2 linked regions of the Homo sapiens genome follow. The protein of the gene in region 1 purifies or fractionates together with the protein of each later gene. This does not show direct contact. Each region holds a gene or a part of one and is shown on either strand. Other genes may lie near its edges. The genes, in order: NAT8L and KIAA0232.

What was found.
Region 2: the proteins of NAT8L (region 1) and KIAA0232 purify together in Homo sapiens (affinity purification with mass spectrometry; 3 studies listed by BioGRID and IntAct, with this or other methods). This does not show direct contact.

What each region holds. Positions count from the first base shown.
Region 1 is NC_000004.12:2,057,051-2,061,150, forward strand, and holds the start of NAT8L (N-acetylaspartate synthetase), read left to right. Parts: upstream 1-2,276; 5' UTR 2,277-2,461; coding exon 2,462-2,837; intron 2,838-3,947; coding exon 3,948-4,100. UniProt on the Homo sapiens protein: Catalyzes the synthesis of N-acetylaspartate acid (NAA) from L-aspartate and acetyl-CoA. Promotes dopamine uptake by regulating TNF-alpha expression. Attenuates methamphetamine-induced inhibition of dopamine uptake.
Region 2 is NC_000004.12:6,780,939-6,784,538, forward strand, and holds the start of KIAA0232 (uncharacterized protein KIAA0232), read left to right. Parts: upstream 1-1,788; 5' UTR 1,789-1,903; intron 1,904-2,837; exon of another isoform or gene 2,838-3,600.

The sequences.
Region 1 (4,100 bases):
TCAAATTGTTAATAGTTGCCCTTATTTGTGTCATTTTTTCTTTTTCTTTTCTTGTTTTTGAGGCAGAATCTCAGTCTGTTGCCAGGCTGGAGTACAGTGGCACGATCTCAGCTCACTGCAACCTCCGCCTCCCGAGTTCAAGTGATTCTCCTGCTTCAGCCTCCCAAGTAGCTGGGATTACAGGCGCCTGCCACCACACCCGGCTAATTTTTGTATTTTTAGTAGAGGCGCAGTTTCACCATGTTGCCCAGACTGGTCTCAAACTCCTGACCTCACGTGATCCACACGCCTCGGCCTCCCAAAGTGCTGGGATTACAGGCATGAGCCACCACGCCCGGCCCATATTTTTCATTCTTAAATTGATTAGGCTTTGTGTTTCTAGATGTCCAAAGTCAACCAAAAAACCCCGAGGATGCTAGCTAGATGCTCAGAAGCCATCCGGTATGCGTGGCTCCTTCATAGCAGACGGCCTGACAGACCCCGTGCCAATCAACCTTGGCCTTGAGGCCTCACGAAGTTCTTAAGCGCCCACCGCACCTGTCCTCTTTCCCCCCATGCGGGGTGAGATGGCCCGGGAATGAGCCTTCCCAGCAGAAAAACTTACATCTAGAATGTCGATCATCACTGCTTTGAGAAGAGAAAATTTTTGATCAAACACGAGAAATGAGAAAAGAAAAATAGCCGGAGCTATGTGGGATTCTCAAAGATTATCTGGCCCAGAGACACCTGAGTACAGGGCCTCAGTCCCGCCTCCCCACTCACGCCCGGGGCAACTGCTGGAAGGCATTTTGTTCTTTCTTTTCTTTCCTATAGTGTCCGCCTGGCCGCCTCAGCGTCATCTTCATGTTCCTGGAATTTGTGACAAATAATGTACACCAATCAATAGCTTATGCCATTTTAATGCAAATTCTTGGTGAATTTAGGAGCTGCGTCTTCATTTTTCCTTTAAAAACGCACTTGCAACTGCTGCGAATGAGAGCGCGTGCATTCAGACCAACCTGAGTCTGTCCTTCCACGCTGCAGTCCTCAAACTTGGCCCCAACAAACTATTTCTATTCGTTTTGCCTGTTTTCTCCTTTAGGTTGAAAAGCTGACAGCGGGCCCCAGACACTGAGGGGGCGCCTTCCCAGCTTGGCTTCCCCTCCCCCCCACGCCCCCACCCCGTCCCCTGCCCCTCTCCAGGGCCCGTTCTCTGGCGGACGGGGCTGTGGACCAGTTCAGCCGCCCCTCCCCACCCCACCAGGGCGCTGCGGCCTCACTCCCACGTCCACGGGCAGGCCCAGCCCCTCCTGGCCTTCAGGTGACCTCAGCTGCCCGGCTGGCCCCAACTCCACCGCACAACGCAGACTGCGGGTCCCCAGGCCTGGACCCCTGGCCCCGTCCCGCCCGCGCATGTCGGGGAAGCTCTGCTCCGGCAGCCCTCGGGGTGGTGCTGGGAGGTCGCGCAGAACTGAAGGGGGCTAGGTTCGAGAAGCGCCGAGGATGGGGTCTGCGACCGCCTCCCCGCACCTGAGCTTCTCCGCCCCAGCCTGCGGCGTCTGCAGGTCCTACAAGGCGCAGAGCCCCCGCTGCACCTGCACCGAGGCCACGGGGCGCATGCGCGGCCGCGGGGGGCGGGGGCCGGGCCGGGAGGGGTCCTGCGGGCCCCGCATCCCCGTGCCCACTGCGGGGCTCGGACAGGGGGGCGCCGCGCCAGGCCGCAGACCCCGCCCTTCCGCGTCCCCACTCCGGCTGCCCGTGCGGCTCCGGACGAGGCTTCCCGGGGGCTCCGGGCCGGGGCAGCCGCGGCGCCCTCTCCCCAGGTCCACCGCGGGCGCTGCTTTCAAACAAAGGCAGGAGACGGAGCGGGAGACGCTGCCGTGACTGCTCCGGGCGGCCGCGGAGGAGGAGGAGGAGGACGTGGCGCCGCGATCGCCAGCGGTCGGGCCCGGGGTCGGGGCGCTCCCAGGCGCGCGGCGTGGGAGCGGGGGGCGGGGCGGGCGGCGCCCATCACGCGCTCCGCGGCCGGGTCCCGAGCCCCGCCGGACGCCCCCGGGCCAGGAGCCCCCGCCCGCGCCGCCGCCCCCGCCCGTGCCGGGCCCCTCGCGCTGCCCGGCCGCCCCGTCGCGCCCAGCGAGCCACCCGGCGAGGCGGGGGCGGCGTCTCCCCCACCCCCGCGATCACATGGTGACCCCCGGCAGCCAATGCAGTGGACGCTAGGACCCTGCGGGCCGCGGGCGCCGCGACTGCACCGGCGCCGCCGCATTATAAATACTTCTCCAAAATGCGGCGCAGCTCCCTGCGCGCGCCCCGGCCGCCCGCCGCCTCCGCCCCGCGCCCCTGAGCTGCCGCCGCCGCCGCCGCCGCTGCCGCCGCCGCCGCCGCCGCCGCGGGTCCGAGGGCGCCGCGCCCTTGCCCTGGGCCCGGCCGTGCCCGCCGCCGCCCGGCCGCGTCCCCGCTGCCGCGCCGCCCGGCCGGGTGCATGCATTGTGGGCCTCCCGACATGGTCTGCGAGACGAAGATCGTGGCCGCCGAGGACCATGAGGCGCTGCCGGGGGCCAAGAAGGACGCGCTGCTCGCCGCCGCCGGCGCCATGTGGCCCCCGCTGCCCGCCGCGCCCGGGCCGGCCGCCGCGCCCCCCGCGCCCCCACCTGCCCCGGTGGCTCAGCCTCACGGCGGGGCGGGGGGCGCGGGGCCGCCGGGGGGGCGCGGCGTGTGCATCCGCGAGTTCCGTGCGGCCGAGCAGGAGGCGGCGCGCCGCATCTTCTACGACGGCATCATGGAGCGCATCCCTAACACGGCCTTCCGCGGCCTGCGGCAGCACCCGCGCGCGCAGCTGCTCTACGCCCTGCTGGCGGGTCAGTGCGCCGGGCCCCCGGCTGCCGCAGTCCCTCGGGCCGGCGCGGAGCTCCCCCGCCCCGGCGTCCACGCGGACCCCGCGCCCGGCTCCCGGGGACCAGCCTGGGAAGCCCCCCGCTTTCTGCCGCGCCGGGCCCCGCGCAGGGCTGGCTATGGGCGTGGGGATGGGCGCAGGGCCCCGAGCGGGCCGGAGCCGGGGAGGGTCCGGGGTCCGCACCTGCGTCCCCGCCGCGCAGCCCCCCACCCCCACCGCCTCCCCTGTCCCCTCCCGGGCATCCTGGGTGGGGGCGGGTGCCAGGGCAGGTAGCGCCCGCCGCGGCTGGGCCCCGGCGAGTGCCTAAATATAATCTGCGGGCGGGGGAGGCCGCCTCCCGCTCGGTGCTAATTTATGAGGGGAAGACAGCCGGCGCCGCGGGGGGTGCGCGCGCCTGGCACAGCCGGGGCGGTCGCAGAGGGCGGCCCCTTCAGCGTCTTTGGGTGCCCTTCCCCTCAGAGCTTCCTGCCGGGGTGAGGGGGTTCGCTCCCATTTTACAGATGAGGCGCTTGAGGCCGCGTAGGGAGGACGCGACTCCCCCAAGGTCACGGCAGCCGAAATGCGGCTGGAAGCGGTGTGGGGCCTCCCTGCCCTGTCCCTGCCCTCAGAGCTCCCGGACGCTGGCCAGGAAGGGCTCTTGCTGGGGCCCTGGGAAGAGGGGGTCCTGGAGCCCGAGGCTGGAACGTGGGACACCCCCCTTCCTCCTCCCCCCTCCCCCCTCCCCCGCGCGGGGCCTGGTCTGCGGGGCAGCTCCCTGCCAGGATCTGCCCACCTTGGCTTCAGTAGGCCAGCGTGGGCAGAGTCCTTCCCGGCCCGGCCATCCCGAGGGTGTCCTGCCGTGTTTGGAAGCTCAGAGACCCGCCGAGGCTCATTCCAGGCGGTGGGGGTGGGTGGGGTGGCTGTCTTCACCGCAGGAAGCTTGGAAATAGGGAGAAGTAGAAAGCACCCGAGATGACCCCGGCTCCTCCACCAGGAGCGCGGCCGGGCGCGGCGTCCCTAGCGGGCTTCGCCGGGGTGGCGTCTCTGGGGCCTGGGGACCCCCGCCGCGCCGCTGACCCGCGCCCTCTGCCCCCAGCGCTGTGCTTCGCCGTGAGCCGCTCGCTGCTGCTGACGTGCCTGGTGCCGGCCGCGCTGCTGGGCCTGCGCTACTACTACAGCCGCAAGGTGATCCGCGCCTACCTGGAGTGCGCGCTGCACACGGACATGGCGGACATCGAGCAGTACTACA
Region 2 (3,600 bases), 4.7 Mb from region 1:
CAGAACTGAGATATACTGTTATTACTTTTCAAAAAATTTTGCTGTTAATACTCTTTTGTAAAATATGATGTAGATGACAGATATGTCACCAATGTAGCAAAAATCAAAAGCTGACCATCCTTTGCAAATCCCCCATACTTTGGTCTGTGAAATCCTGGAGCCTGGAGGCACCTGTGAACTAGGCTCTGAAGCTCTGCTACTCTCCCCTCCTCTACTCCCAAGTGGCCCTGGATTTCCCATACCCTTTCCATTCTCGACACTGTTTTTAGAGTTTGAGTTCCAGGAGCACAGGGACTGTGCGTTCCCGGCACTGAGCCAGGTCCACAACAAGCACTCAGAAGAAACTGACTGAATGAACGTGTGATTTATGACGATATACATTCACCTGAGCGAATGCTCAGAGAATACAATTAGAAGCAAACTGGTTAAGGGAGACAGTAGTGTAAAGGAAACGAAACCCCATATTTCAGAGCCAGGAGCCTGGGTTCACATTCTGTCTCCTGCAAGAGGTGGTTTAGCAAGGTCAGAAGGCCCTGTCCACTCGGTAGCAGCCAGGCTTGGGTGAAATCACTTTCTTTCAGCCTCAGCTTCCTCACCAGTTAAATGCGGATGACAAAGATTTGTCCCACGATTTTTGTAAAGAACAAAAAGATATGTTCGCAGAAAAAACACTCTGTAGATAGTACGTAAGCGACAGTTCCTCGGTTTGTCCTTCCATGGATGCATGGAGCATCTAGCCAACTCAGCAGATGACCCCTCTCCAGTGTTTCAGCATCTGCTTCTCCCACAAGCCCGTGAGCTGGTGCAGGAAATTCTCCAACAGGTTCTGAACAGAAAAGCATAGTGCCTGGCACCTAGTGGGTGCTGCATAAATGAACAAATGACCCCAGGTAAGTCACTCCTCCCATTGGACCTCTTTCTTCTAAGTAATCTCCCTTCCTTTTCCAGGTCCATGATACTTATTTGCTTTTTTAGAACAGGCCTAGGAGTCACATTTAGGGAAGGTAGGTGGCTGTGAAGACACTTTGATTAAAAGGTTAATGCACATTTTTGGTTTCCACTTTCGAAGCTTCCAGAATTTATTTTTGCCTAGTTAATAAAAAAAGAGCCATGTCACATTTCTTTAGCTTGTCTTCTGGGTTCCTTAACAACAACAACAAAAAATTAAAGTCTTTATTTTAAGCCGCCTACTCCAGCCATCCCAGGACGCGGCGAGGAGGGGGCGCGGACAGGTGGCGCGCGAGCCCGGGAAGGCGGGGGCTGCACCGGGCCGCGGGCGGGGCCGTGCACGCCGAGCCCCACTTCCCCAGCGCGGGCCGGGGGCGGGGCGCGGCGGCAGAGTTCGGGGGCTTCTGCCGAGGGCAGTCCCACGTGCCCCTCCGCGGGAGACGTCTCCTCTCCGACGCCCAGCACGCTGGGGGGCTCCCGCTTCCTGCCTGCCCTCTCTACTGCTTGCCCTCTCACCTCCCAGCGGCTTCCGCCGCCCCGGCCAAGCTGCACGGCGCGTCCCGGGCCCTAGACCCCCACCCGCCAGGCACCAGCCCCGGCCTGTCCCCTCGCGCCGTCAGCCCGCGGCCCACCGCCCGCGCGCGCCCGCAGCCCAGCCGGAGGGAGGGGCAGGGGCGGGGACCGGCCGGCGCTGATGTAATCCCGGCACCCGGGCGGAAGGATATGGAGCGCGCCCCTGGTTGGCGGGGCGCTGAGGCCAGTTGCCGGGTAACGGAGCGGAGCGGCTCCCGGCGCGCCGCCTCCCGCCCTCCGCGGAGTGGCGCTGGGGCCGCCGCCGCCGCTTTACGTAAGGCGCAGGCCAGGGCCGCCCGGCGCTCGGCAGCCGCCCGCAGCCCCTCGGAGCCAGAGGAGAGGCGCCCCCGCCGGCCGCCGCGCCGCCCGGCAGCCTCGGCAGGTACTGCGGGCAGGCGGCGGGGAGGGAGGGCGCGGAGCAGCCCCTCGGCCGGGTGGGCGCGGGCCGGGGAGGCCGGACGCTCGCCGCCGTGGGGCTCCGGGGCCAGCCCGAGGGAGGCCGGGCCGCAGCCGAAGGCTTCGGGGTCAGCCCAAGGGAGACAGGGCCGCCGCCGTGGGCTCTGGGGCCAGCCTAAGGGAGGCCGAGCCGCCGCCGAGGGCTCCGGGGCCAGCCTGAGGGAGACCGGGCCGCCGCCGGGGGCTCCGGGGCCAGCCTGAGGGAGGCCGGGCCGCCGCTGATGGCTCCGGGGCCAGCCTAAGGGAGACCGGGCCGCTGTTGATGGCTCCGGGGCCAGCCGAGGGAGGCCTGACCGGCCCCGATCCTGGTGGTGCCCGGGCGTGCGGGTGAGCTGTGGGCCCTGGGACCCCCGCCCCGACCCCAGGACGCCGGGACACCAGCTTGCGGCTCTTGCGCCCGGGTGGGCTGTGGACGATGAGTCCGCACAATGGGTTGCCGTTGGCTGCCTCCTGCCTGGGGCAGGTGTCGCCGCGCCGGGGCGGCTCTTCTAGGGGAGACGAGGCGGGGGTGCTTAGACTTGATAGGACGTAGAGCCCCGAAAGTGGGCGCGGGAGGAAGGCTTCGGCCGGTGGGAGGCGCCCGGCGTCCCCGGCAGCGGGGTCAGGCCGGCAGCCTGGGCCGCTCGCTCGCGTTCCCTCCGTTCCCCTCCCCTCCAGCATTGTCCTTTTGGGGCCCCGGGAAGGGAAAACCGCCGGGCGGGGGAGGAGGGCCGCAGGCGGGCGGGGCCGGGAGGCCGGCTGAGCGACTGGCGCGCCGGCCTATGGCGCGGGGCGCGGCGCGGGGGGCGGGCCTGGCGGGCGGGGCCGGTGCGGCGCAAGGTTTGGCGAAGGTTACAGCTGGAGCTAGGAGTGACAGGCCCACAGTCATCCGTGCGCTGCGCGGCAAACCCTGTCGCGAGGGCGCCCCGAGTTGCTGCGGGGCCTGATCCGGCTCCTTTCCAACAATACGCGTCTGCAGCCGGCATTTCTAGAGCTCTCTGCTTCTTCCCGCTGGAGAAACCAGTGTGTGTCGTGTTGGAATGCTTCGTCTTGCCCTAGAATTCAGCTTGCGTCTTGTGGTGCGCAGGTGACAGGACCTGCCGAACTCTTGGTACAGACCCCTAAATCATGGCAGAACTGTCTTGATTTCTTTTTTGCCACCTTTCCGTTTTTGTCCTCTATAGGCAAGCTATAAAGATTTAACCCAGTTAAAAACAGGAGGGAGATTCAGCGGAGAGGAGGCATGCGAGATTCTTTGGAAAAAATTATATAAATGTAGTTCTTGCTAATAATTACCTGGGTTGGATACTTTGACTTACTGTTCAAGTTCCTAAGAAGGGATTTTACATTTCTGGGTCTTGTTTTAAAAACTGTTAGAAAGCTCGTGAGGGGGTAGGGACAAGCAGTTTTGGTAATAGGCGATGCTGTGGATAAAACTGTGCGGTAAAATGCCCAAGCTAGATTCTTCCTATGCAAAATAAGACCCGTTCCAGAACACTTTGACCATTTCGTGGACTTAGAATTTAAAGGCGGGTGAGGGCGGGGGGGGAGGAGGAGCGGATTCTATCACTCTGCATCCTCAAGGTCAAATATTCTTCCATCAGTTATTTTGGATTGAACCATTCTTAAATAGGTCTCAGGATC